2 separate regions of the Homo sapiens genome follow, and region 1 is linked to region 2. The links come from fine-mapping of genetic effects on gene expression. A gene starts in region 2. The other region holds a variant in brackets. All regions are shown on one strand. Distances are between the middles of the regions.

What was found. PIP is the estimated chance that this variant, and not a neighbour inherited with it, causes the effect.
Region 1: its variant is fine-mapped to the expression of LINC03018 in tibial nerve (GTEx, PIP 0.97).

The regions. Positions count from the first base shown.
Region 1 is chr8:57,699,123-57,714,865 of GRCh38, reverse strand. No RefSeq gene overlaps it. Among named protein-coding and RNA genes, the nearest start is that of LINC03018, 39 kb to the left of the region's middle. The variant T/C (reference allele first, on the strand shown) is at 9,170.
Region 2 is chr8:57,738,614-57,754,356 of GRCh38, reverse strand. It overlaps LINC03018 (long intergenic non-protein coding RNA 3018), which reads right to left and starts at 8,208. Exons shown (of 2, transcript NR_134276.1): 1 at 8,007-8,208; 2 at 4,160-6,416.

The DNA.
Region 1 (15,743 bases), 39 kb after region 2:
CTAGTTCTAGATCCTTGAGGAATCACCACACTGTTTTCCACAATGGTTGAGCTGGTTTACAGTCCCACCAACAGTGTAAAAGTGTTCCTATTTCTCCACATCCTCTCCAGCACCTGTTGTTTCCTGACTTTTTAATGATCACCATTCTAACTGGTGTGAGATGGTATCTCATTGTGGTTTTGATTTGCATTTCTCTGATGGCCAGTGATGATGAGCATTTTTTCATGTGTCTGTTGGCTGCATAAATGTCTTCTTTTGAGAAGTGTCTGTTTATATCCTTTGCCCACTTTTTGATGGGGTTGTTTGATTTTTTCTTGTAAATTTGTTTAAGTTCTTTGTAAATTCTGGATATTAGCCCTTTGTCAGATGAGTAGATTGTAAACATTTTCTCCCATTCTGTAGGTTGCCTGTTCACTCTGATGGTGGTTTCTTTTGCTGTGCAGAAGCTCTTTAGTTTAATTAGATCCCATTTGTCAATTTTGGCTTTTGTTGCCATTGCTTTTGGTGTTTTAGTCGTGAAATCCTTCCCCATGCCTATGTCCTGAATGGTATTGCCTAAGTTTTCTTCTAGGGTTTTTATGGTTTTAGGTCTAACATTTAAGTCTTTAATCCATCTTGAGTTAATTTTTGTATAAAGTATAAGGAAGGGATCCAGTTTCAGCTTTCTACATGTGGCTAGCCAGTTTTCCCAGCACCATTTATTGATGGGGAAAGGATTCCCTATTTAATAAAAACCAGAATTGTTTATTAATATCTCACCCATCTATCCTCTCATGTAAATATGAAAATGGGAACTCTATCCAGCACTCTTTTGGAATTCACAAAATAGCAGGAAGTGTACTAGGAAATGGGTGTTTAAGGACCTTCCTGACCCTGTCTTTCAGCCTGGGTCGTATTAAGGTGCCACCATGCTTGGGGCTTCCTGGGGGTAGGGACCATGCTGACTTGTGGCCAAAGGATCTGGAACTCTTCCAGGCACACACAAAAAAATGAATCTCTGTCCCTCTGAACCTTGCCATCTGTGGTGTGAGAGACATAGCTTCAGATACACGAGCTGCTCCAGAGCCCCAGCTAAATACATTGGCCCCTAAAGTTTTGGGCATTTCTGTCTAGATGTGAAGCTTCAGAGAATCTATGAAATTTTATCATGTAAATCATTTATTTACAATTTTAAACAATTGGATGAAGAAGATTACTCAAGACTGCAACAGTCCACTTGGCAGACTCACCAAAAAAGATAGGTGACTATCTGCCTTGTTAGAATCCTGACTTGTTTCTCTTTTTGAATCTGGAATGCTAGAAAATATAGGAACTACTACCCTCAAAATATTTGCTGAATTAGTGAACTAACATAGATCCTGGAAATTCAGCCAGGAAGGCTACAGTTTGACTTTTTTCTTTCCTATCCCTCTCAAGAAATCAATATCCCTAATATGGTCTTTGTGAAGATACTGGAAAATCACCACAATAGCGTACAAATTGATTAACCTCTTGATTTGATTCCCTCTGCTACCTGCTAAGAGATTGACTAGGAAGCTATTGTGAAAGATGAATCTCCACCTGTCTATTTTTAGATAAAATAATAAGTATTCTAGAATATCTAAAGATAACAGAAAGTACGGTTTAATAAAGGATAATGACTTTAAGACAGTATCTTAACAAGTTAGCTCCATAAGAACAAAGCAGTGGAGCTTTCCTAGGTCTCAAAATCTGAAGAATGAAATTCTTTTTTTTTTTTTGAGATGGAGTTTCACTCCTGTTGTCCTGGCTGGAGTGCAATGGCACCGTCTCGGCTCACTGCAACCTCTGCTTCCCGGGTACAAGCGATTTTCCTGCCTCAGCCTCCCAAGTAGCTGGGATTACAGGCACCTGCCACCATGCCCAGCTAATTTTTTTATATTTTTAGTAGAGACGGGGTTTCACCATGTTGGCCCGGCTGGTCTCGAACTCCTGACCTCAGGTGATCTGCCCGCCTTGGCCTCCCAAACTGCTGGGATTACAGGCATCAGCCATCGCGCCCGGCTTTATTCATCTCTGACCCATCTACCCTTCTCAGGTTAATATTAAAATAGGAACTCTATCCAGCACTCTGTTGGAATTTGTAAAATAGCAGAGAACTTACCGGAAGCTGGAATGGTCTGGTTCAATATTCTGGGTGTGGATGGTTGAGGGGGTGGTTTGTACTGAAGGGTCTTTTTTTTTTTTGGTCATTCGTGTAGAATAGGTCTCTATTGATCTTCTCAAGTGAAATTGACCCTCTTATTTTAAAGTAGATATTGAGAGAAACCTCTTGTTCTTTTACATTATCCAGCCAGTTTCTCTTAGAGTGCTGAGGAGCTACTGATCGAGCATCCCTAATTGAAAAATCCTTAACCCAAAATTTGAAACTTTTTGAGCTTCACTATGATGCCACAAGTAGACAAGGAAGATGATGTTGTTAACACTGCAGAAAAAGTGGCCGTAGATGACATGGGAAAAAAGTGTGATGGGGCTTATTGAAGAATTAGAGCAATGTCCATTCATAGCAGAGCAAGAAATCATGCTCGTTTATAAAATCAGAGAGACTTCAAGAAAAATACATGTTGTCAATGAGGCAGATGACCCTGGAGGAAATGTTTTTAAAAGCCATTTAGCCATCTAGCCTGGTGGTGTCTGTTGTTGCTGTTGCGGAACAGCTGACACAGATATTCTGGTGACGCTACTGAGCTGGTTAGTTACCCTCAACATGTTATTTTTTCACTGTATGAATGGCATATCATTTTTTTACTATGATGTACTTATGTGTGAATAAGTGTGAGAAAATAATTGCTTATTGGCAGCATTTAAATTCAGCCAGGAATGATGGTGATGCCAAACAACCACAGATTGTCCACATGGGTCACACAGTGACACCTTTCCTTGCTGATGGTTCAATGCACACAAGCTTTACTTCAGTCACAGAATTATTGAAAATATTGTACAAAATTAGGGTATGAGTAGAAGGTATATATTAAACATAAATACATTTTGTGTTTAGACTTGGGTTCAATCCCCAAGATATCCATTATGTTTATGCAAATATTCAAAAATCTTAAAAAATCTCAAATCCAAAACATCTCTGGTCTCAAGCATTTCAAATGAGGGATCTTCGACCTGTGTAAGTTGATGTTGCCACTGTTCCTTGCAGAGATTGCATGTGGCGGCATATGGCCTGATTGGGCCTATAACTGTTAGTATAAAAAAGAGGAGAATCCACGTTAAAATCTCATTTAGCTTGTCTTTGAAAACAAGCTCTGGAAACTGGGCTGCATTGCTGTGTGGTTGTATCTCTTGAAGCTGAGTAAATTGCTTCTTCTTTAGCTGAATAGACAGTCACAGGACTGGTTGATGTTTCTCTTATTCCCACCTGTCAGTCATCTGCACTACCTGTCCACCCCTGTAGGCTTCTGAGTTTTCCAACCCCTGCAGCATTTGGAATTCAGGAAGGAAGTGGTTGTGATCCATATGGCATTGTTCTATTTTCTACATGTGACTCTGCTCTGGAATCTTATCTGTTGCAAGGCTGTGTATGTTACAGCACCAACACTTTATTAGAGAGTGGGTTTCTTAATAATAACTAATAGAGTTCCGTTTTTTCACTTTAAGGGAATTGACAGCCTTTCTCAACCATAGGACCTCCTTAGGTCTCTGTTCCAAAGAGATCATCCTAACAAAAGTCACAACACTGTTCATTTTGAGGCTGCATGAACCTCTGAGGTATAAAGCAGCATTAAATCAGAGAGAGAGCTGAGGTGTCAGTACAGAGCAAGAAAATGTGATTCTTTTATGCGTGACTGCCAAAATTATATTCCATACCACTATAAGTTTCCCAATCTGAAAAGAAATTCAAATTTAGGAACTTATTTTGGGAAACAATATTTCTATACTAGCTTCACAGTTTTACTCTCTGTTCTGGAACAGAAATTTGCTATTCTGGGGCCAAGGCAGGTCTATCATTTAGAGGAGGGTTGAGGATATGGACAATTTAGGTGAAATCAAATTTTTCTATTTTCATTGCATTGTTAATCCATCAAAGATGTACACATTTTATTCTAAAGGGACAATATCTGCACTTACTTTCCTTTGCTCTCTTTTATTTTTCCTCTTTAACCCTTCCTGTACCTCCCCTCAATCCCCTGAGAAACATTATATCCTCAGGAAGCCTCTTAACTAACTAAGACTAGAGGCAGTGCAGTCATGAAACTCTGGGACTGCTTCTAAAGTAGCATATTTCGCACTATTTATCAAGTGCTTGCTTTCCTATCTATCTTCATCAGACACTTGCAATTCTTGCAGGCAGGGACCTTGCCCTTCATGCCTGTGTCCAACTATTATATACAAGGAATCCTGCTTAATGACTAAGACTCAAATTATTCACTGGACACGAGATGCAGTAACCTTGATCAAACTTTTATACCAAAATACAGTTCTCTGAACTTATCATTTTAAAACGAAGTCCAATTTGTCCATTATTTATAAATCCACGTTGTATTATAAATTATGTTATATTATTTATATATTACACAAATATAAATATATAATTCCACAATGTGGGAATAGATGAAACAATTTTCAACTTTGTTTTTACTTACAATATTAACTTTCACTCCCAATCTGTTCTTCCATTATTGCTCCTTAGGGAAACTACTGTAAAAATTCAGTATGTGATCTGTATCACTGTGTATAATACTGTCCTAAGCAATGATAACATCTACAAGACTTTCAAAATTATACTAGCTTAAGTGAGACAGAAATATATTTCACTAGCACATAAAAGGAATCTGGAGCTGGTCATAGAGGACTGAAGATAACTTCACAATTTTTAGGGACTCTGGACATGTTTATCCATGGCACCTTTAGTCTAGCCGGCTCCTCTTCATTCCAGCCAATAGAAAGAGAAGAAGGAAGAGGAAGAGTCCGCCACTTCCATTTTGGAAAGACTTCTTAACAGTTCGCCATGCTGCTACTCACAGCATTAGCCAGAACTTGGACAAGTGGCTGTACATGTCAAGCAGGGAGACAGAGAATGTGCTTTTAGCACTGGTAGCAATGTGCCTTGGAAAACAAATATAGCATTTTTTCTTCGTTTCAGTTTTCTGTTTGTTTTCTGAAGAAGGAGAACAAAGAAGTAAATGGATGGTGCAGGGTGGCACTCTGTTATATTCCTCCAATTATTTTGTATTAACAGACATAATTTAATGTGGAAATATATTTATTTTAATAAAATCAGGTCATATATATTATTGTGATTATAATGTTATCACTCAAAATTTTGTGTGTGTGTGTGTAACTTTCTTTGATTTTTTAAAATTTACTTTAAGTTCAGGAATACATTTGCAGAATGTGCAGGTTTATTACATTGGTATACATGTGCCATGGTGGTTTGCTGCACACATCAACCCGACATCTAGTTTTAAGTCCCACATAAATTAGGTATTTGTCCTAATGCTCTCCCTCCCCTTATTGCCCACCCGCTGAAAGGCCCTGGTGTGCGATGTTCCCCCCCACGTCCATGTGTTCTCATTGTTAGACTGCCACTTGTGAGTGAGAGCATGCGGTGTTTGGTTTTCTGTTCCTGTGTTAGTTTGCTGAGAATGATGGCTTCCAGCTTCACCCATGACCCTACAAAGGACATGAACTCATTCTTTTTTTTATGGCTGCATAGTATTACATGGTGTATATGTGTCACATTTTCTTTATCCAGTCTATCATTCTTGGCCATTTGGGCTGGTTCCAAATCTTTGTTATTGTAAAAAGTGTTGCAACAAACACATGTGTGCATGTGTCTTTATAGTAGAACGATTTATAATCCTTTGAGTATATAGCCAGTAATGGGATTGCTGGGTCAAATGGTATTTCTGATTCTAGGTCCTTGAAGAATTGCCACACACTCTTCCACAATGGTTGAACTAATTTACATGCCACCAACAGTGTAAAAGTGTTCCTATTTCTCTATAGCTTCACCAACATCTATTGTTTCCTGACTTTTTAATGATCACCATTCTAACTGGTGCGAGATAGTATGTCATTGTGGCTTTGATTTACATTTCTCTAATGACCAGTGATGACGAGCTTTTTTTCATATGTTTGTTGGCCGCATAAATGTCTTCTTTTGAGAAGTGTCTGTTCATATCTTTCACCCACTTTTTAATGGGGTTGTTTGTTTTCTTGTAAATTTCTTTAAGTTTCTTGTAGATTCTGGATATTAGACCTTTGTCAGATGGGTAGCTTGCAAAAATTTTCTCCCATTCTGTAGGTTGCCTGTTCACACTGATGATAGTTTATTTTGCTGTGCAGAAGCTCTTTAGTTAGGTTAGATCCCATGTGTCAATCTTGGCTTTTGTTGCCATTGCTTTTGGTGTTTTAGTCATGAAGTATTTGCCCATTCCTATGTCCCGAATGGTATTGCCTAGGTTTTCTTCTAGGGTTTTTATGGTTTTGGGTTTTACATTTAAGTCTTTAATCCATCTCGAGTTAATTTTTGTATAAGGTGTAAGGAAGGCATCCAGTTTCTGTTTTCTGCATATGGCTAGCCAGTTTTCTCAGCACCATTTATTAAATAAGGAATTCTTTTCCCATTGCTTGTTTTTGTCAGGTTTGTCAAAGATCAGATGGTTGTAGATGTGTGTGTTATTTCTGAGGCCTCTGTTCTATTCCATTGGTTTATATATATGTTTTGGTACCAGTACCTTGCTATTTTGGTTACTGTAGCCTTGTAGTTTGAAGTTAGGTAGCATGATACTTCCAGCTGTGTTCTTTTTGCTTGGGATTGTCTTGGCTATGCGGCCTCTTTTTTGGTTCCATATGAAATTTAAAGCAGTTTTTTATATTTCTGCGAAGAAAGTCACTGGTAGCTTGATGTGAATAGCATTGCATCTTTAAGTTACTTTGGGCAGCATGGCCATTTTCATGATATTGATTCTTCCTATCCATGAGCATGGAATGTTTTTCTATCTGTTTGTGTCCTCTCTTATTTCCTTGAGTAGTGGTTTGCAGTTCTCCTTGAAGAAGTCCTTCATGTCCCTTGTAAGTTGGATTCCTAGGTATTTTATTCTCTTTGTAGCAATTGTGAATGGGAGTTCACTCATGATTTGGCTCTCTGCATGTCTACTGTTGGAGTATAAGAATGCTTGTGATTTTTGTGTATTGATTTTGTATCCTGAGACTGATTTTGTACCCTGAAATTGCTTATCAGCTTAAGGAGATTTTGGCCTGAAATGCTGGGGTTTTCTAAACACACAATCATGTTGTCTGCAAATAGAGACAGTTTGACTTCCTCTCTTCTTATTCGAATACCCTTTATTTCTTTCTCTTGCCTGATTGCCCTTGCTAGAACTTCCAATACTATGTTGAATAGGTGTGGTGAGAGAGGGCAGCCTTTTCTTGTGCCAGTTTTCAAAGGGAATGCTTCCAGCTTTTGCCCATTTAGTATGATATTGGCTATGGGTTTGTCATAAATTGCTCTTATCATTTTGAGATACTTTCCATCAATAACTACTTTATTGAGAGTTTTTAGCATAAAGGGATGTTGAATTTTATCAAAGGCCTTTTCTGCATCTATTGAGATAATCATATGGTTTTCGTCATTGGTTCTGTTTATGCGATGGATTACATTTCTTGATTTGCATATGTTGGACCAGCCTTGCATCCCAGGAATAAAGCCAACTTGATCGTGGTGGATAAGCTTTTTGATGTGCTGCTGAATTCTGTTTGCCAGTATTTTATTGAGGATTTTCACATTGATGTTCATCAGGGATATTGGCCTGAGATTTTCTTTTTTTGTTGTGTCTCTGCCGGGTTTTGGTATCAGGATGATGCTGGCCTCATCAAATGAGTTAGGGAGAAGTCCCTCTTCTTCTATTGTTTGGAATAGTTTCAGAAGGAATGGTACCAGCTCCTCTTTGTACCTCTGGTAAAATTTGGCTGTGACTCAAAGGCTGAATAAGTTTCCACAGGATGCAGGCACCTTCAGTCAGTTAACTATCTGTTCACTATCTGCCCTTCTTGAGTTAATAGCTCCACGTTTTCTTCTGGGGATCCACTTGTGGTTCCAGTAGAGTGGACTCACCTCTCTGGTCCCATACCCCAGGTCCAAAAGGTCCAAAAGTTGTAAGGGCCTCGTCAATTAGATTCTTGGTTTCCTCTGGCCTAAATGGAGGGTTGGAGAATGGGCCTGTGTCACCATCAAAGTCAGTGAGCAAGAAAGAAATATTTGCTGCAGCTTCTGGAAGTGAAAGGGGTAATCCTTTCTCCCTGTAGTGTAGCTGGAAACACATCTCTGAAGCCCCTACCTCCATCTCACCATGGTATGAGACCCATGAGAATGAAATCCCATACAGAGGCCAGCAGGAGTGAAAGGCAGAAGAAAACATGTAAATTCTGATCAAGACTTTTCTGAATTCTGTCCTAACTCTGGAGTTTTCAGATACATGGAATTTCATTATGATTAAGCCAATTTGGATGGGAAATTTTGTCACTTATGAAATTTAGTGGCAGGGAACTGATTTGAAATTCTCCTTAGAAGAAGATGGTGAAGAGTGACTAATGATGTCTTTCCCACAGTTTCTGAGTTGATAGGAGAATGGTATCTCTTTCATTAGAAAACCTGTCTATGTCTATGAATTTGTTCTCTGAATTAGAGAAGAAAAATCTTTTGCCTAGGTGAAAAAATGAGAAGTTTTACAAATAACGTGAAAAGCAGTAATAGTGTTGGAAATGTTCGCAGGACTGGAATGGCTGCATCTTATACTCCTAAGTAACCCAACGGGCACTTTAAAATCAGACATGATTAGGAGGACTCCATAATTAGTAAAGTACGATGACCTTCTGCTTTTCAAGCATAAGAAGTGTGTAGTCTTCCCTCCACCCTCGGCTCTTTCGTCCTTCTGACAAAGAATACCCTTGTTCTCAGCACAGGCAGATTCGGAGGCTTGGCTTTCTTCACACACTGACAGGATTTTGTTTATCTTAAGTGAGATATGGACAAAAGGAAACACAAAACAGATGAATGGGCAAAAGTATGAATAAACAACTCCTGCAGCTGAGTAACAGATGGCTGCTGAGCCCTCATGACTAAACAAATTGATCTGCAAGATTTCTGGAAGGAGATACTTGTTAATGTTTTTCTCAAGCAAAAGCTATAGTGATAGAA[T/C]AAAAATGATCTCATCGCCTTCTGTAAAAACAAAGAAAAGGTTGTTTTAGAGAAGCAAATAAAGGCTTTATTATAAAGTTATCCTTTATTCTCTCATTTGTCATATATTCAACAAACCATTCCTGGGTGCCTTGTATTTGTCAGAAACAGTGGGGTGCTGGGGTTGCCCAGAAAGACAAAATGACCCTCACCTCCCACCCTTGACCCCCATCCTGAAGAATGCTCCCAGGTGAATTGAAGAGAATGCCTTGCAAATACATCAATAATAATATATGCTAGAACAATTCTATAGCAAAGGTATGCGCACATGTTGCAGACAGGAGTATTTGTTGTGAGGCAGGTTAAACATCACAGATGTTAGAAGCACCGTGGCCCGAGATTGAATCTTGAGTGGTTCTGCCCTGACTGACTTAGCTTTTCAGAGCTAATTTTTCTTACAAAATTAGAATAATTATACCTACCCACACCTTCATTGACTCAGGCAACTTTTATGAAATGTAGTCTGTGGTTTTCAGGCACGTGGCACAGAATGAGAGGGCAAAGGAAGAAGTGAGTCCCTCTGTGGGAAGTCCTGAAGGCCCCTACCTTTGCCAGAGGCTGTGCTGGGAACTTCTTAGTGTAGGCAGCTGCAGTTGGAGCTTATATACCTGGGAGCCAGGCTCCTGTGTGAAAATCCCAGCTCTGAGTCGACTATGTGAACTTGGGCAAGTTACTGAACTTCTCTGTGCCTAAAGTTCCTCATTTGACAAATGAGGATAACAATACAGGTTGAGTATTCCTTATCCAAAATGCTTGGGACCATCAGTGCCTCAGGTTTCAGAATTTTTTTAATTTTGGAATATTTGAATATACATAACAAGATCTCTTGGGGAAGAGACCCAAGTTTAAACACAAAATTGATTTATGTTTCATATACGTCTTATAAACATAGCCTGAATGCAATTTTATATAACACTTTAAATAATTTTGTGCATGAAACAAAGTTTGTGTATGTTGACCCATCACATGATATTAGGTGTGGAATTTTACGCATGTCATGTCAGTGCTCAGAAAGTTTCAAATTTTGGATTTTGAGATTAGGGATGCTCATTCTGTAGTAAGAGTTTTACTGAGTTATGACAATAAAATGAACTAATAATACATGTAGAGACGTCAGTACAGGGCCTGACACATAGTATTCTCTAAAGAACAGTATTTGTGATATCATGATTTATTTATGATGATAAAATGAAATAACATGTAAAGTACAGAATAAGGCTCCTGACACATTAAACAAACGGTTAGTAAATATTTGTTTTATTTGTTTTGGTGGAGTAAATCAGCACAGCATATCATCTTAAACAGCTTTTAATTAAGATGTATTTCTTTAATGAGAAGATAAGCTAAGTATCACATGTGAAAATTAATAAAATTGTCTCACTTTTTATTTGATACTTTTAATATGGAATGAAATAACTGGACTGAATTTTGTCAACCCTAGTCTCTAGTATCTTCTTCCTGGACTTTGCAACAGGATTCATTTTGCGATAGGACAACCCAAGTCTCTCTGCTGCAGATTTACAAAACTAAGTAGCTGACTACACGATTGCATGGGAGACCGTGCAGTGATTTGCAGAACATAAGGTCAATACCCCGCGCTTCTAAGAAATACTCTGCGTGGCTTTGTAGATAGGGGATGGAGCACACGGCATCTTTGGGACACCCATTTTGCTGGAGCCACAGAGAGGGATGGGCCTTGCTGTGTTCTTGTTTTCAGGTTGGCTTTGGAGGGCTGCCCACCAGGGTACTGGTGCATACTTTTCAAAAGACCCCTGTCACTTGAGTTTAGATAATGTTCAAGCAGTTGCTCTGCTGTGGTCAGCAACACTATGTGATAGATTCAACTCCAGAATTGAAGGAATCACCAATTTGCAGGAGTCTCAGGATGAGAGACTTCATAAAGGGAAGGCCTGTGACATTTCAGGAGCACCTCAAGCAGGGCCCCTCACACTGGGAGCATGGTAGGGCTGAGATGCCCAGGCCCAGCTTTTGAGGCAACTAAGCACTTAATTGCTCCTTTAGATTTCATAGCATGAGAAAGACCAGCACACAGGGAGCAACTTGAACTCTTGTGAGGTGTTTAGGACCCCTCCTTTGGATATTGCCATTTTTTTAAGTTCTTTTAAGAAGAGGAGGAAGCACTATGGTCCCCTGCTGCCTCTGTGCCCTTGGCCAAGGACTTGGCACAGTGGGACTACGATAGAGATAGGCTGGATGTAGAGGTGCTACTGAGGACAGTGGAGTAATACTTTTATGGGGTGCCATTCACTTAGCGCTGGGAAAGAAATGTGTCACCCAAAGGAATAAACATGGTTTGGGCAGTGGGAATCCTTAAGACAGCATAGAAATGGCACTGGACTATGAGGCAGGAATTGCTCCAGCTCTGGCTTCATTGGCTAACAGACTCAGGCCCTGAGTGACCCTGGGTGAGCTGTCTTGGCTCCTTTCCTCCTGGCAGGAAATGAAATCCAACTGCCTGTGCTCCCTCGTGTCTCACCAATACACATGGTTCTCAGTGTGATAACAGGTATTGTCTCTCTGCCAAGCTTTTTCTCATATTCCCCTTCCAACACAATCCTAACGCTTTGTTTACTGTTCTCATTTTTTTTTTTTTTTGATAAGAAAAATGAGACTCAGAAAGGATAAGTTCTGGGTCACAGCCATGAATCTAGTGAAGGGGAAAGCTGAGGTTCTCATGGCAGCCCTGAGAACCTCCATGTACTCCTCATGTCTCCCCAGACTGAGCGCAGTAAAAGGAGCTGAATGAGGCTAACTCAAAGGTAATTCACAGTAGATAATGTTTTCCAAAGTCAATTTGATTTTTTCATTTATTTATTTTTGGTGGTGTTGTTTAACAGCTGGCTTAACAAAAGATCTGAGGAAAGGGTCCAGAGAAATCCCCACGATGAGAAACAGTGGGAGTTGCTCTCTGTGAACTGGCAGCTGGTGTCCTTGCCCAGCGACAGAGAGGATAGCCCAGCTGTACCTCATGGCACTGCACTCCCTGCCAGGCAGTGCTCGTCTTCCTTCTGGCCTGCAAGAGCAAGCCCACAGGAAGTGAAATTGGAGAGGCCCCCAGTGCTTTGCTTGGGAAGTCACAGTGAAGACTCACTGTGGGGGCACAGGAATGCAGGCTCCCTCAGGTTTGGCAGCTTCCAGCCTCACAAGTGTTTCACATTGACAGTGAAGCAGAGGTGATGAGAGTGGTCCCTTGACATGATCCCTGATGGCAGACGAAGAACAGTGTTTATTTGTGTACAAAGAACCTCTGCACAGAAGACAAATGTTTCCTTCCCTCATGGTTACAATTAGAGAGGAGGAAGGTGATTTTGGAAAACAAAGTTATATATTTTTACTTATTTCAAAACACTATGTTGATACCATAAATATATGCAATTTTTATTAATTTTTTAAAAAGCCAAAAACTATTCAGTGTTATTATCAACAACCCCCTTTAACTGTGGACACAAAACATGTGGTAAAGATTTGTGTTTTAAAGATACCAGATGTTGCATACCATAAATACATGCAATTTTTATTAATTTTTTAAAAAGCTAAAAACTATCCAGTGTTATTATCAACAACCCCGTTTAAATGTGGACACAAAACATGCAGTAAAGATTTGTGTTTTAAAGATACCAGATGGAAATGCATATTTCATTGTATTTGGAAGTTTTTCTTTTCTCTCTCCATGTTCACTCATTCATTCATTTATAAACATGTAATGAGAATCTACTCTGTACCAAGCTCTGTGCTATATGCTACGGATGTAAGAATGGAATTGTTCTTCCTACCACTGCTGGGCAAGTAAATAAATACAATGTAGAAGACATTTGCTAAAATGGGGTATATTCTTTGGAACAGCCTAACGGGTGTGAACAACCTCAGAATTTCAATGCCTTGTTGTGTGCCTGGCCCGTCAGCCTGAGGTAGCTAATAGCAGGGTCCAGGGCTTTGCAGGGCACTACCATTCTGGGCCTAAGCTCTTTCCACCTCCAGGTTTCCCCTTCCTCTGTGTCCTCAGAACCCTCTCCTCCCTGTTAGCGGATAGACAGAGAGAGGGAGAATTGCTTTAAGGAGATTTTTAAGGGCCTTTCCTAGAAATGGCACAGATGACATCTACTCCCTTTCCTTTAGCCAGATTTCAGTTATGTGGCCACACCGAGATGCCAGGAAGAGTAGAAAATATAAATGGGATGTATGTTCAGGAGAACTTGGATATTGGTGTGCACTAGGGACACAGACATAGAGTTATGTTCAAGGACAGAAGTCTTAATTAACAATTCCCCTGTTTTAAAAAGATGAATGGTTACATTGACTGATGCCTACACAGTGAGTTATGGACCTGATAACCATAGCTGATATGATGATCTTATGAATATTATATATATATTTTTAATTTAATTTAACTTTTTATTATACTTTAAGTTCTGGGGTACATGTGCAGAACATGCAGATCTGTTACATAGGTATACATGTGCCATGGTGGTTTGCTGCACCCATCAACCCGTCATCTACATTAGATATTTCTCCGAATGCTATCACTCCCCCAGCCCCTCACCCCCTGACAGACCCCAGTGTGTGGTGCCCCCTCTTCGTGTCCATGTGTTCTCATTGTTCAGCTCTCACTTATGAGTGAGAACATGTGGTGTTTGGTTTCCTGTTCTTGTGTTAGTTTGCTGAGAATGATGGTTTCCAGCTTCATCCATGTCCCTGCAAAGGACAGGAACTCATCCTTTTTTATTGCTGTATAGTATTCCATGTGTATATGTGCCACATTTTCTTTACCCAGTCTATCATTGATGGGCATTTGGGTTGGATCCAAGTCTTTGCCATTGTAAATAGTGTTATAGTAATCACACGTGTGCATATGTCTTTATAGTAAAATGATCTCTAATCCTTTGGGTATATACCCAGTAATGGGATTGCTGTGTCAAATGGCATTTCTAATTCTAGATCCTTGAGGAATTGCCACACTGTCTTCCACAATGATTGAACTAATTTACACTCCCACCAACAGTGTAAAAGTGTTCCTGTTTCTCCATATCCTCTCCAGCATCTGTTGTTTCCTGACTTTTTATTGATTGCCAAACTAATTGGCATGAGATGGTATCTCATTGTGGTTTTGATTTGTATTTCTCTAATGACCAGTGATGATGAGCTTTTTTTCATATGTTTGTTGGCTGCATAAATATCTTCTTTTGAGAAGTGTCTGTTCATATTCTTTGCCCACTTTTTGATAGGGTTTTTTTTTTCTTGTAAATTTGTTTAAGTTCCTTGTAGATTCTGGATATTAAACTTTTGTCAGATGGATAGATTACAAAAATTTTCTCCCATTCTGTAGGTTGCCTGTTCACTGTGATGATCATTTCTTTTGCTGTGCAGAAGCTCTGTAGTTCGATTAGATCCTATTTGTAAATTTTGGCTGTTGTTGTAATTGCTTTTGGTGGTTTAGTCATGAAATATTTGCCCATGCCTATGTCCTGAATGGTATTGCCTAGGTTTTCTTCTAGGGTTTTTATGGTTTTAGGCCTTATGTTTAAGTCTTTAATCCATCAGTAGTTAAGTTTTGTACAAGGTGTAAGGAAGGGATCCAGTTTCTGTTTTCTGCATATGGCTAGCCAGTTTTCCCAACACCATTTATTAAATAGGGAATCCTTTCCCCATTGCTTGTTTTTGTCAGGTTTGTCAAAGATCAGATGGTTGTAGATGTGTGGTGTTATTTCTGAGGCCTCTGTTCTATTCCATTGGTCTCTATATCTGTTTTGATACCAGTACCATGCTGTTTTTGTTACTGTAGCCTTGTAGTATCGTTTTGAAGCCAGGTAGCGTGATGCCTCCAGCTTTGTTCTTTTTGCTTAGGATTGTCTTGGTTATATGGGCTGTTTTTTGGTTCCATATGAAATTTAAAGTAGTTTTTTCCAGTTCTGTGAAGAAAGTCACTGGTAGCTTGATGGGAATAGCATTAAATCTATAAATTACTTTGGGCAGTATGGCCATTTTCATGGTGTTGATTCTTCGTATCCATGAGCAAGGAATGATTTTCCATTTGTTTGTGTCATCTCCTATTTCCTTGAACAGTGGTTTGTAGTTCTCCTTGAAGAGGTCCTTCACATCACTTGTAAGTTGTATCCCTAGGTATTTTATTCTCTTTGTAGCAATTGTGAATGGGAGTTCACTCATGATTTGACTCTCTGTCTATTATTGGTGTATAGCAATGCTTGTGATTTTTGCACATTGATTTTGTATCCTGAGATTTTGCTGAAGCTGCTTATCAGCTTAAGGAGATTTCGGGCTGAGACGATGGTGTTTTCTAAATATACAATCATGTCATCTGCAAACAGAGACAATTTCATTTCCTCTTTTCATAACTGAATACCCTTTATTTCTTTCTCTTGCCTGATTGCTCTTGCCAGAACTTCCAATATTCTGTTAAATAGGAGTGGTGAGAGAGGGCTTGTGCTGGTTTTCAAAGGGAATGCTTTAAGTTTTGGCCCATTCAGTATGATACTGGCTGTGGGTTTGTCATAAATAG
Region 2 (15,743 bases):
TAACATTTTATTATTATTATGGCAATTACGTCACTGCCACATTGTTTTTTTTTCTTGACATGTTCAAATGCCTCTCAGTAATTATGCCTTCCTCTCAACTAAGACAAATTCTTGATAGTATCTTTCTCCTAGTCTCTCCCACATTCATGTTAAAGTATTTTTAGCATTTTATATACACATGTTTTGATCATTGCCTATTTGAACAATAATGAAAGTCTTAAATTTCTAGTCATCTTATATTGTTTCACATTGCTTCTTCTTCTTTCTGAAGAACTTTGCCGAGAGTGCTCTCAGAGAATCTTTGCATGATTAACTGTGTGAGGCTGAGTATGTGTGATAATATCTTTATTTTATCTTCACATTTAGATAATAGCTTAGTTCTTTGCCTTGAATCCTTTGAAACTCTTACAACCTTGTTTTCTTCCAGTTAGTGTTGCAGTTGTGAAATCTGATGTTCCTTTGAAGTGACCTCTTATTCCCCCCAAGAAACTTTTAGAATTATCAATGTCACTGATTTTCTAAATATTACTCTAATGTGTCTAGTAGCTGATGTTTCTTATTGATCCTGTTCGAGTCTGGGACTTTTTAAGTATACATTTCTTAGATACCTGAACCCTACTTGTTAATGCTTTTCTTCTGAAGTTCCCATTAGATACCTATCAATGTGTCCACTCCTCTCCTCCCGTCTTCTGATGTTTCCCTCATGTTTTAAGTCACTTAATCCTTCCCTGTTGCCTGCCCTGAGAGTTCCTCAACTGTACCTTCCAGGGCAGTAAAATGTTATTTTTTTCAGTACATTCTGCTGCTCAATGCATCTTTTGCATTATTTACTTCAACAGTTACATTTTCACACTTAATATCCCCAGTTGAATGCCGTGTTACTTTGTGTACTTGCCTCTTGTTTCTAGTGTCCTTTCTTACATCCCTGAAGACATTTATTTATGTTTACTTAAAACTCCTATTATATCTGGTATATTCATTGTGTAACTCCTGCTAGGTTGTTTATTTTCTTGCCCTTTACAGTGCTAGCACTTCTCAAATGTTGTCATTTATTTCCCTTTGAGTTCTATTCCTCTTGGAATTCTTTGTTACTCCTGGCTCACAATATAGGTCTGGGAGAAGGAAAATGCTCTGAAGTCGCAGCTTGTTCTCTTCCATAGGAGGTTTAGCTTTGGTGCCTTAGGACATTGGAGCCTCTGGTCTTGCAATCAGAGCCCCAAAAATACTCATTTTCTTCCTTCCCCCTCTGGGGAGGCTCTGCTCCAGACAAACCTCACTAGCTCTCCCATCCCCTCTTCGCCATGATGCTATTCTCTGAGACTCTTTTAATCCACAGCGTGTGTATAGAGAGATGGAGAGAGTAGAGGATTCCCAGAGGTGACCAGACCTCATGCATCTCTTGCTTTTGTAGTTTTGTCCTGGGCCAGCTCCAGTGCCTCCTCAAGTGTTTCTCATGAGTGTTCTGTGATGTTCAGAATACTTAACCTCCTCACTTCTGCGGCTTTTCCAGGGTGGGTTCAGGGGAAGAAGCCAGTAGCGTGTGCAAGCTTACCATCTTTTCTGGAACTAGAAATCCTTATTGACAGTAGGAGGAAATTCCTGAGATAACATCTATTATTTATTCATGTTTGAGAGTAATGAAAGCAGGACTTTAGCACTAGTGAAATCAGGAGATACAGGTGCAATTTTCAGCACTACATCTTATTGTCTCTGCGTCCCTCTACCTTTAACTTCTCTAAGTTTCAGTTTGGTCATTTGCAAGTTGGGAAAAGAAAACTGACACACTGTTTTATTCATCAGATACTGTGTATCAGGCACTAATATGAGGCCTGGACTACTTCATAAGACTTCTTGGAGAAGCAAAGGAGATAATAAGTAAAACAGCTAGGAAGATCAAAGTACACCATACTGAAGAGGGAAAACTGCATCAAGCTTGAGGACTTCGGCTCTCGAGTGAGAAAGATGTGGGTTCAAATCTTGTTTTTGCCACTTTCCTCTGTTATTTTGAGAATGTTATATAATTTTTCTGTGCATTAGTTTGGTGAGTTGTAAAATAGAAATAACATCTACATCAAAAGATCGCTGTGGGTTGAAAAGAGGCAATCTGGTGGAGCACTCAGTGGTTACTCAATGCCTGACATCGATTCTGCATTCAATAAACATTAGCTATTATTAGTGAATATATTTTCTCCTTCCTGGAATGGCAGCATTCTAGTAGCTTTAATCACTTCTCAAAGGAAATTAAAGGGACATTGGCCTTAGATAATTTAATGTTGCAGAATCTAAATCTAGCCAGTCCATTATTAAATATTGAAGAATTATGATCACTTTTTTGCCTTAAGAGCATCTCTTAGATTTTTGAGTAATCAATATTGTGGTCTTTGAAGTAAAAGCTAAAGCCTGTGAATCACTGTTCAGAAACTTGGTCTTGGGTAACACTGAAGTGTTTTGAAAAGAAAATGTTTTCAATAATAACAATTCAAAACTTGAGAAAATGTGTATGGATTAGACTAGCTACATAGGGTGAGGAGAAGGGTAAGTGTGAAAATGAAGAAAGACAGAGACTACAGATGGAAGATCAAGAATGCCAGAAGACATGAGTCCCCAGTGATTCCAGCATGCGTCATAACTGAAGCTGTGGAAATGGGGAGTCTTATTCTAGAATAGTGTTAATCTCTATTGTCCATACTGTTGTTAGTAGCAGCATTAGCTATTAAACAGTTGAAATATGGTTAGTGTGGTTGAGCTGAAGTTAAATTTTATTTATTTTTAATTGATTTCAATTGAAATTGAAATAGCCACGTGTGGTTAATGGCTACTGTATTGCACGATGCAGTGCTAGGAAAGGAAATTGGCAGAAATTATGTCAAATTAAAAATGGGTAATGAAGGAGTGAGAAAAACAGGTCTCCACAAAGACCCTCAAGGGAAGACTTTAGGGAGCCAAGGGTCTATGGATATTTTCTGATTCCTTCAGGGGTTTTTAGACAACCATCTGTCACCACCACATTCAAAACCCTCTGCCTTCTGTAACGTTGTCATCACCTTGCAATGCTTGTTAATATTTTCCCTTGTCATAACCATAGCCCTATGCTCAGAGCCCAGGGGAGCAGCACACCGTATGGCATGGAGTTCTCCCAAGGCCAGGAGAGAGACATTGATGCCAGAGCACAGAGACCAGTGTTCGTAGCATCAAAGAGTCTCCTTTTGTACACACAGCACATACCACCCAGCACACTGGCATGCAAAGGGAAAAAGCTGCCTCGTGATGCAGCAACCTGATCTCCCTGGACTTAGTCATAGATAGCTAGAGCCTGTAATTTGCTAAAAAGAAACTTTAGCTCCATTTCTTGTGTGTTTGGGCAAGATGTATATTTAGATATGGGCAATATTTGTGTGCGTGTGGTAAAAAAACAAATAGTACAGCACTGTAATAGCCTGTTTAAAGAAAGAGAAAGAGATACTTTCTCTTTTAGAAGTAAAAAATTTGAAGATGACTTCATGCTTGTTTTGGCTTGTGTCTTCTCAGCCTTTCTCAGGATGTCTAGAGCTGTTCTGAGGCTTAAGCCCTGAGCTTCCCAGGTTTACGCAGCATGTGGAGTATCCTCCTAGGAGCATTCTCTAACTCACCTGAGCATGGGACAGGGTGCCTGGGCTCCCTTTAGCCCACCATTATTGAAGCCATGTAATGAAGAGGTCTTTTTTAAGCATCAGATATGTAGTGTGTTAGAGCTCTCCTGGGACCATTCTGGCTGCACCAGAGAAATCAGAAAATGTGGGTTAGAGAGAGATTGATATATGGATGGAGAACCTTCTTTGCAGGTCACAGGAGGAACTCCAAAGACAAGAACAATTAGCAGATGGCCTTTGCTGGGTCTCAGCAGGAGGGGGCAGAGGGGATGCTTCCATTGCTAAGGTGCATTGCATCGTGCCAACAGCTTTCAGCAGCTAGAAAGTTTCCGTGGTTTCAGAGAGACATAATGTATCTTCCGTGGTTATGGTAAAAAGCATTTCCCCCCACCTACAGAGTGATGCTCGGTTATTGACTATATATTATGAAGCTGCATATCACAATTTATAGGAATATGAAAAGTTGCTATTCAATGTATTATTCGCCTAAATCCTAAATTAATACAAAGTTCACAAAGAAAAAAATAATCTTACGAGGAAAAAATTCTCTTTTTATTATTGAACCAAGATAGTATATTTAGATCTGTGACCTTCCTCATTATTTATTTACACTCTGGGGCAGACTTCTATGTTATACAAAATATTGGCAGGAATAAAAATAGACAATGATTTCAAATAAAATGTATTTTTCTTCACCAAATGAATTTTAGGGATGATTACACATCCAACCCTAGCTACCCTACATACGCACAAACATGTACAATTGGCATGATAGGAGCTTGGCGCAGAACATTTGAATTTTTCCTCCACTGTATGATACTTTGGTGTCTCCTCTAGTTAAAACTTGATTGACTTCTGTTTTGTAAGTGTTTGATTTTCTTTTGCTGTTGTGGCTGCTATAACATAAATGCATCCAATTTGTCCATTTGCTCAAAAACCCTTTATTAGGAATCTATTATTCACTCAAGGTCCAGGTAAGCAGATAAGTAATTGAGTATTAATTCTGCATAAAGTGGAAATTGCCGCTGTGACATACTCTTGGGCACTGTGCACCTCATCCTTCAAATGCCTAACAACAAAAAAATACTCCAAAAATAGTAAATTACAGTTTACTCTTGTTCTTTTGTGATGATATAACTAACATCTTAAGGGATAACCCAAGCACAATACAAAACTTTTAAACTGTGACCTTTTGATGTGGACTGCTACTCCACAGAGTATACTTTTAAAAAGCACAGATTTTAGATCTGCAGAGCTGCACAGCTACATGCAAAGATTTACTTTTCAGTGGTTTTCTCCCTTGGCTTAAAAAAGGTTCCCCTTCTTCCAGGACATCCTCCTTTATCTACTGTGGCTACATTATCTCCTGTGAGAGCATATTCCTATGATTCCTTTAGTGCTCATTGAGTATATATGAATGCGACATCCTTAGTATTATTGCAAACGGGAATTAACTCCTGCACTGATGGCTCAGCTTCCCCGTGTGTGAGTGTTCTCTGCCAACCGGAGTAGAATGCCCTTTCATGACAGATAGCACTAACCCCAGCTGCCACTACGCCGCTCTGGGACAGTGCAATGGGAGCCAGGCATCATGGTGGAGTCTTCTGCATGCACGTGTCTCTCATGCACCCCTTATACCGGCCCTGGGGAGGACGGAGGGGTGGCTGGTACTGAAGGTGGCTGGCAGCCTGCAACAATTGGCTTCAGGAAAGTGTTTCAATTGAACAATCTGTTCTTTCTTTTTAAAGGGCAGTTTTCAGAACATTTGGTGTATTTTTGGTTTGTCATGAAGACAATGTATTTTCCTGGAAGAAATTCCTCTGTTTCTAATCAAAATCTTCTTCTGACTACCGGACTTGCCTGTCCATTCAAGACCCCACAACCATTGCTTTCAACTAGCTTCCCTTGTGTTCCCACCAAGAAAACTAAATCATCACTTCTACATGGCTTTTTCTCCTGACAGACACAGAACTAACACAACTGAACACACTGGATTGCCCCTAGCTGTTGAAAAAGGGATCGTCGTAAAAATGTTTTTGTTTTTACGTTGTATGTCCTTCCTTCCTTGTTTCCTTCCTTCCTTTTTCTTTCTTTCTTTCTGTTTAGAAACAGAGACTAAAACAGAGGCTTGATCAATTCTTTCTCAGCTATTAAAAAGAGAAAGGCACTCTCAGGGAATGAGATTCAGGCAACAGCTTCACACTCCCGAATCTATTAACACTCAGATGCACCATCAAAACTCCTCTTCGGAAGCTCTTTAGGGAGGCAGAAAAGGAGGGTGAAACAAAATAGGGGATTTTTTCAAATGCCAGCATTTGAAAAGAAAAGTGAGAGTGAGAAAGAGAGCTGCTGGCAGAAGGCATGTGTGTGTGTGTGTGTTGTGTATGTGCATGTGTGTGTGCGCATGTGCATGTGTGTGCCTGTGTGTGCTTGTGTGCTTGCTGGGAGTTTGGGGGAATGGGGCTGAGAGTAGAGAAGTGCAGTGACATAAATCAGGCTTGTGCTGAGTTTCCTGCTTTTTTATTGGTTTGTTCCCTGTGGTGCTTTCTCTAAAGCTGCTTCCTCTTTCACTACGCTCATTTTGTTCCCAGTCCAGGAGGTCTTAGGATATTGGGGAGATGCCAAACATCTGGAGTTTGTGAAGGAGAGGGAGGAATCTCCATGCTTGACTAACTTAATCTTCATGTGTCCAAGGGGAAGCTCAGCATCATGCGGCCAGAGGGGTCTGTAGTCTGTCCGCTTGGCAGACACCTGTTGAGTGCTATAGAATCATGCAGGATGCTCCACCTGTGTAATCAAGAGATAGGTAAGAGGTAGCCAAGTTTATAACATTTCCACAACAACTAGGGTTACAATAATTATGCCATAACCAAGTATGTAATTTTTTTGAGACAGGGCAACTCTACTATTTCAGTCTTTCATATGTAATTACCCTATGCATTATTATTAAATCTCTCACTTTCAGAGCATTTACCCTGTGCCAGGCCCTGAAATAAGTGCTTTACATATGTTAGCTCCCCTAATCCTCACAATAATTCAATAGATAATTAATGTGTTGTCATTTCTATTATGTGGATAAGAAAATGGATTCATAGAAGCTATGTTATTTACTCAATATTCCCTAGCCAGAAAATAGTATTCCTAATAGTTAATCTGGATTTTTCTGATTTAAGAATCCTGGATAAAGATTATTTTTGACATTTCAATTGATTATTGCAAATGTTAATGCAAACAATGTAACTAATAATGAAGCACTGGGATCTCCTGTTTCTGTTCCCTGATAAAATGAACAGAACCAATTAAAATATTGGTTTTAATTTTCTACAGTTTATTTCTTTTCCTATGTGTTCTCTTCAGTAGTTAAAGAAAGAGTTTTTTTATCAAAGACAAAATCTTAAATCAATAAATTTAAGACTCCATACTTGCTACAAATAATTAATTTAGGAAAAAATCAGGCATTATATTATAATTTATTAACCATGACTGTGAAAATGTTGCTTGGGCCAAGCACATTTCTTTCTTCTAAATTCTAAGAGGTTGAGCATAATTTCTGTGAATTACTTAATATTTTTATGTATGTCATTCAGTTACCTATTTCTGTGTAAGAAACTACTCCAAAACTTAATAGCTTAAAACAATACTGTTTTATTTTATCTCACAGATTCTGTGTGTCAAGAATTCAGAAACAGCTCAGCTGAATGGCTCAAGTAATACCGACTGAAATCACCGGGTTTTCAGCTGGTGGTTGGGATGGTTGAGAGCCGCGCTGTCCAATTATGCAAACATATATACATAGAGAAAGAGTAATTTTAAATTTTCTAATAACCAAATATAAAAATTTTAAGTGGAATTATTTTAATAGCCTATTTTAATACAATATATCTAAAATATTATTTAAACATAATATAAAATTCTTAATGAGATTTTTAAACATATTTTTAGAAATCCAATATGTGGCCAGGCATGGTGGCTCATGCCTGTAATCCCAGCACTTTGGGATGCTGAGGCGGGAGGATCAGTTGAGGTCCAGAGTTCAAGACCAGCCTGAGCAACATGGAGAAACCCTGTCTCTACTAAAAAATACAAAATTAGCCGGGGATATTTTGGGATTAGGTGGCACATGCCTGTAATCCCAGCTACTTGGGAGGCTGAGGCAGGAGAATCACTTGAACCTGGAAGGCAGAGGTTGCAGTGAGCTGAGATCGTGCCATTGCACTCCAGCCTGGGCAACAAGAGCAAAACTCCGTTTCAGAAATAAAAAAAAAAAAAAAAAAAAAAAAAAAAAAGAAAGAAAGAAAGAAAGAAAGAAAGAAAAGAAAAAAAGGAAATCCAGTATCTATTTTACTCTTATAGTATATCTCAATTTAAATTACTCACATTTTGAGTGCTCAGTAGTCACATGTGGCTGATAGCTATTGGATAGCACAGGTTGCTGAGGCTCCAAGATATCCTCACTCTCATACTTGCCACCCTGCTGGAGTTGGCTGGAAGGTTGGGCTCAACTGAGCCCCTCTCCTCTTCCAAGTATTTTTAGTTTCTGTGTGGTCTCTCCCATAGGAATAGTCAGCCTTCTTCTAAGACAGCTCAGGGCTCCAAGAGACTGAGCTGAAAGCTGCCAATCCTTTTAAAGGGTAAATCCTGAACTGGTGTGGCATCATTTCCTCTGTAATATATACAACAAAACAGTCACAGTTCAGCCTAGATTCAAGGGGATGAAAAACTGATCCATTCTTCAATGGAAGGATGGTGAAAGATGTGTTGCTATCTTTAAAATGCCAGAAAAACATATTAGTTTATGTCAAAATAGGATACAGCCTGAATATCCCTTATCCTAAATGCTTGGGACCAGAAGTGTTTCAGATTTCAGATGTTTTTTCAGATTTTGAAATATTTGCATTATACTTACCAGTTAAACATCCTTAATCTGAAAATCCAAAATCCGACCTGTTTCAGTGAGCATTTCCTTTGAGTATCACGTACACACTCAAAATACTATGGATTCTGGAGCAATTAGGATTTCAGATTTTCAAATGAGAGATGTTCAACCTGTAGAATAAAGCTGCACATTTTAAAGTCCATTTATATAGATGATAAACCATTGAGATACAGTATATAATGAAAGTGAAAGTAATCAGGAATGGAAAACCAAACGCCGTATGTTTTCACTCATAAGTGGGAGCTAAGCTATGAGGATGCAAAGGCATATGAATGATACAATGGATTTTGGGGAGTGGGGGAAAGGGTGGGAGGCAGGTGAGGGATAAAAGACTACACATTAGGTACAGTGTACCCTACTTGGGTGATGGGTGCACCAAAATCTCAGTAATCACCACTAAAGAACTTACTCACACAATCAAATACCACCTCTTCCCCAAAAGCCTGTGGAAATAGTTTTTTTAAAAAAGAAAACACCAGTATACGTTGCACATAGGAAACATAAACGTTATTTCCAAAGCTGTTAAAAAAAAGAAGGTGAAATAATAAGCCTAAATTTAGCAGATGCTGGAATATTATAGTAATACATGAATCAATTATGGATGATAAATATATGTGCATTTATAACCTAAACATCTATAATTGATCATATATGGTTTATTTTATATTAGATTCTTAGTGAACAACGCAACATCTAATACCAAATATTAACATTGTTCTTACAAGAAAATTTTAAAAAATTATTTTTCTGCCATGTTTCCTAATGCTACCAATATATAATGGTGAAAATTTCTTATTTTATTCTATCTGGGCTTTTTTTTTTTTTATTTTTAGGAACTGTTTTGCAATGGAGTTCCTGCCAGTGACTTTAAACCTTGTTTGGATGACTATTTAGCATGGAGATTTCTACTTGTTTGCAAATAATCTGCTTGAAATATCAAAGAGGAGACCACAGCAATTATGAAACAAACAGAATCTTACGGACTTCTTTTTATTTTTTTTCCCCAGATATTTGGATAGGTCAGATGAAATCTCACATATTGAAATCACTTATTTATAAGCACTAGCTACACAAAATGAAATCAAAGCACAGTGAATAAGGAATTCAAGGAACTACTGTCCTGGGGTAGTAATATCTTGAGATTCTGAAATTTATTATTTCTGTCACTAAGCTAGAGAATGGTAATTGAGCTAGACTAATATAACATTGCTGTTGAAAGTCTCTGACTATTCTCTCAAAGGATATGGTCTTTGTGACTAGTCACAGGTTTCACTTAAACTCATTGCTTTTGACAATAACAAGTCTCTCTTTTTTGGACTTGTCCACATTGTGCCAAGTGGAGCTGAGATTAGAGAGTTTATCAGTTGTAGTAGATATCCATAATGGACCAACAACAACAAACACAATTATGTGAACTGGAATTTAATTCCCAGCCATAGCAGCCAGGAAGAATTTACCAAATCTATCAGTCGTCAAATTCCATGACGTGCCTGAAAATATGTGGTAATTAAAAATGTAATCACTGAGGCTAGAAAGAAGATACTATGTTCTCATTTAAGGTCTTAATTGACTCATGCAGAAGATGCCTGTTAGTTTATTCTGCATGATTTGGTAATTTCAATTCTACATGGAACTGCAGAGTCTTACGTACTAGTATTGATGTGAGAGTTTGAAAGGGCAGAATGATCCATACATTTGCTGTTGACCTGCCACTTGGAGAATTTACTGTCTCAGAACTTCTGAATTGAATTAGAATTCTTCTCTGTGGTGTACACTCAATAAAGAAGGCATCCAGTTAAAATTAATCTGGTAGATTCAGACTCAACACACAGATAAGATGGAATAATCACTATATTAAAAGTCACTTAGCTTTCATTCATTTAACTTATTTATTTACTGTCTCACCATATTCTTTCTTTCAGTTTTATACTTAATGTCAAGAACATTCTATGGAGAGAAAGTGAACTAATATTTATTTAAAACATTTTAAAAGCCACTTAAGGAAATCTATTACTACTTGCTTGCTACTGTATAAGGCAGTTCACCTTTATGTTCCTATTTACTGCTCTCAGCAAACCCAGGAGATAAATACTATTATTAATGCCATTTCACAGACGGTGAAATTGAGTCTTAAGGTGATTAAGTCACTTGTCCACTATCCTGCAGCTAATAAATGGCATATAAGGGATGTGAGCCCAGGTTTGCCAGGCTGTAAAGGTCTAGTTTTTAACTACTCTGCAACAGTAGCAGGAGTACCAGTAGGAACCATAGTAGGAGCAAATAGCTAACATTTACCGAGTACTCATTGTATGCCAGCCCCAACCTTTTTCCCAGACAGCTAGCTCAGAGCCATCCTAAACCAAACCACGCAGAGTTCTGTGCCAGCCTGAAATAGCAGTGCCCAATGGCCAACAGCGTCTCCCAGCACCTAACAGGTTCTGAGGCATGTACATCCCTCTGTGGAAAGTCTCTCCAGCACTCCAGAGGAGAGACTTCCAGCAATTACCAACTGTGAGACACCTGAGTGATTTCTGAGCCATCAGTGAGTCACGGCCATGCATTCTCCACCATCTGGAGTTCAGCTACGATGGCCATGAGGAGATCTTCCCTGGGTGTTTCATGTCAGCCCTGGAAATCATGCCTGCTCCTTCCATCTGTGGCTCCTAGGTTCCTTAGTATTCTCTTTAATTCTCAACAGGCAACTCCTCATAAGCAAATCTTCTGTTAATAATTCCTTATATTACACTTTGTGGTTGTAAACATTGCATGTGTTCTGTCTCCCAACTGGGCCCTAACTCATATATTATTTTCATAAAAGCTCCATAAACAAAAACAATCATTAGCTCCTTTTTACAGGTGAAGCAACAGAAGTACAGAGCAGTGAACATGGTTTTCTCAAGTCTGCTAGCTCTGAGAGTTGATAGGTCTGGCTCTCCTTTATCCCCCTTGTCTTACAAAGGTTGGAGGCCCCCTGAGTCCCATTCTCAGTCAATTCTCAGTCTAGTCAACTTCCTAGTTCTTTAGGCTCCAACTAGCACTGAATTTATTTTCAGTTAAGACCTGAATTGTTTCTCCTATCTCCCAAAAGATTATATTTTGAAGCCATTCTCTCAATGTGACTGTATTTGGAGATAGTGAAGAAATTAATGTTAAATAAGATACTGAAAGAGTAATCGATCATGTTAAAAGTGATTGATGAGGGTCTTAACATGATAGGACTAGTGTCCTTACAAGAAGAGGAAGAGTCTTTTTCCACAAAAAAAGTCATGTGAGGACAAGTGAGCAGGTGATTGTTTGCAAGCCAAGGAGGTGGGTCTCACCAGGAACTGATGATGCTAACACCTTGATCTTGGACTTCCAGCCTCCAGAAATTTAAGAAAATAAATTTATGTTGTTTAAGCCATTTAGTCTGTGGTGTTTGGTTATGGCAGCCCAAGCCGACTAAGTCACAGCCCAAAGCTGGTAAATCCAAAATCCACACCTTTAGTGTTAGTTGTCTACCACACATCTCCATGTAGTTTTCAAACTTTAATCTTGCCTCCCCGAATTGTCCTCCTCATCAATTCTCCATCATCATTAAAGGCCTCACTAGCTGTGGAGTCACTTGAGCCAATGACCTTGGGATCTCCAACTTCTTTAGTGCCTCACAGCCTTCATAGTTATGACAATTCTAACTATTAGATAGTCTAGTTCATTTCCTCCTTTGTTTTCTATACAACTTGCTTATTTCATGATTTAATTATATTTCATTTGTTCTTTTGCAGAAGCAAAGTGATCTTGTTGTCTTAGTGCTCCTTTTCTCCATCCCTTTTTACTTCACGCCATAAATCCTGATCTGATTATGCTGCTCTACAAACCTTTGACAACCCCTTACTCACAGCAGCTTTTCCAAAGTCTGTCTCACAGAAGATACACCCGAGAGACAGTCTTATAAAAACAATTTTGTGGTTTGACTCACAACAGCCATTAATATAGTAAAGGCTCATAAAAGACCTGCAGAATGTCTTCGATTTAACTTTATTTAGTCCAGCATTTTTCAAATTCAGGAACTATCCATTCTCTCTGTCCCATTTTTCCCTCTTTGCACATGTTTGGCAGGATGTGCTGACATATTAGATAAAATAAAATCTCTTAATCTTGGTGTGGCAGAGTCTGGTTGTCACCCTGTAGTGAATACCGCTGTTGTCCTGCACATACCTCCTTAGATCTTACTGTTTCTATGGGACTGAGCTCAGCCTCCATCCTTTGGGGGCAGCCTGAGCCTCAGGCTGAAGGATGACAGAGAAGCAGGAAAGCCCAGCTGTCTTATCTCAGGTCAGGATTACCCTGAGAGCTCATTTTCCTTCCAGAGCTTCCCCCATGGTTCATGCTGACACTGCAATCCTGGGATCGTTGCCTGCAGTTATACAAGGCTAGCTTCTTTCTCTTTCCTGTCTTGTTGAGATAATTAATAAATCATGTGCATACAAATCTTTGTCTTGGGCAAGCATCTGAGAAAGCCAGCCTGAGACAGTACACCAATATTCTTTCAAAGCCTATGTTATTGCATAGCAGTAATGTAGTTCAGAGAGAGCAGTAACTCCATTCTTCCTACCACAGTGATTGGCTTAGGAGAAAGGAAGTTTATGCCAATTAATGCATAGAGCTACCCTAAAATAATCCAGAATTGGGATTAATTCTGGATTGGACATGAGGTCTACTCAGACCATTGACACATGAGGAGGGGATTTGCTGTATAAGTATATAAAGTTACATAAAAATTGGACCCAAAGGCATTTATTGTGAAATAATCATTCTTCTAGCTCTGATTCATCTCAGATGGAATGTTAGCTAATGGCGAATTGAGACTATTTGCAGTGACAGAGTTCTGTAGGAAGGCTTATTTGAGTAAAAATAAATAGCAAACAGCAATGTGAATCAGACCATGTTTGAAAAAGAAACAATGTGAAGGTAGTTTTAGTTTATTAGGAATTATATATTTTCATTTAGAAAAATCCTAAATGAGCATTTTTATAGCCACAGAAGCAGAGGAATCTGTTTCACCAAGCTTCATGATAGCCTGGTATCAACTTTGCTGAAATATTTCAAACCCTCCTACATCAATGTCTCTCAAAGTGTGAACCCTAAACCAACAGCGTCAGTGCCACCTGGGAACCTATTAAGAGTTCGAACTGTTGAGTTGCATCAGTAAACCCAATGAAGTAAAATCTTTGTGGCTGGAGTGGGGGTGCCTGGCAATGTGGGTTCTAACAAGCTATTTGTTGATTTCACTACATGCCAAAGTTTGAAAATCTCTGTCCTACATGAGGGCTCACACTTTACCTTTCCTGTCTTTTCCTTTATTCCATTAACACCATTCTCATTATGTCTCCTATCTATACTGTCTTTCATGTAAAATGAAAGACATATACATAAACCATCACTCTGATTCAAAATACAGTATATTATGAAAGGAATCAATTCAATTTCATACGTATCATAGATTTTTACCTCAGAAATAACTTGTTTCTCATTGCTACCATAGCAAATAATATCTCAGCAGCTAGAGTTTTCTTAATATTTCACAAGTTTGTATTTATGTTTCACGTGCTGCTTTCTCAAAGGGAGATGTTTTACATATATATCTACATATATAATGACTATGGTGATGAATCAACATGTAGATTCTTTTGAACAAAGCACTGCATACTTTTTATTTTATATAAATAAATTTTGTGCTTTTTTAAACCTCTAGTTGGTTAAAAATGACCCCATAATCTGGTCTAAATATTAAAAGCTTTCAAATTGATTCATACTTCCCATCTATCCCCAACAATACTTAATAATGCTTTAGGGAAGTTCAACTATTTCTACTTTTATGTTTTGAAACTGGGTTTTATTCTGCTTTGCTAAACTTTTAAAAGATAATTATCTCTAAGTATTCAAGTTAAGTAGATGAATCTCTGTCTAACTTATGAGCAGACTCCTAAAATTCTCAGAAAACTGGGTGAGTATAATGAATTATTTTTATAGAGCTATAAACTAATCATATTTTTATAATAATGTGAGTCTAGCAAACACAGATTGAGGTCAGGTAATTTTTCAGGTTAACATTCTACATTACTGTAACAATTTTTGTTATTCTTAAATGAAAATTCTTGATAAACATGAGCATGGCTCTTTAAAAGCTTCCTACACTGGAAGATCTGCTACCTGGATCTCTGCTTCTCCATGGGAGAAAACGCAAGCTTAAGAGGATATGAGAGAAGGCAAAACGGCCAGTGGGGGGAGGCATGGCACAGCTCAGCAGGTGTCAAGAGCATGAGGAAGTTTGCTTTTTTGCTCTTTGGAGGAATATACATGTAAAAACAAACATGAATTTATTATGAAGGAAATTGTGAAATTTATATGACCTTGATTTCAATGCTGAATTTAAAAATAAATGGAAATAAAAATCTCATTGCTGGGAGCCAAGCTGGCCAATGAGATGCAGCCAGGAAAAGCATCTCCCACTGAAAAAACAGACCATCAAGAAGACTAGCACACTCCGAGCAGATCTTTGGACAGATGAATTGAGAGGGGACAAAGAGCATATGCAGACCCTTGGCTGAAGAGGGAGGAATCTGGGAACTCTGCATGGGTTTGCCAAACACCAGGATTTGTTCCTGGCCCCCAACAACTTCAGGAGAAGGGATGAGTTAAATACGAGAGATATGGCTCACTCTCACCATAGACCTTCACAATCCTAGCTGCAGGAGACCCCATAACCCCCACAGACATTTGAGCTGACAGAGCGAGTTGCTTGGAGAGGTGGCAGGGACAAGACTCCAGCCTGTCTGGAGGCCAGGGGGTTTGGCATGAGAATGGCTACAGTGGGGCAAGACCAGGTGCTCCCATCCCCAAGTCTTGCCACACTCACACTTCTCTAGGTGGCTTTGGCTTTTGTTGACTGTTGGGCCTTGAAAGAGCAGGGTTGTCTTTTCCATAGCATGAAGCCAGTCTGACCTCAGCAGCCCACTGTCTGCTGGCCTCTCCTGGGGTCCCTGCCTGGCTGCGCCACCTTACAGCATAGCCTTGGATGGCCAAACAGGGTGCTTCCCAGGGGCCACTGCTATCGTTCCTTCACTGGCAGACCCTACCTAACCATTGGAGAGCTTCAGGAGAGAGGCCCTCACTGACACACACACACACACACACAA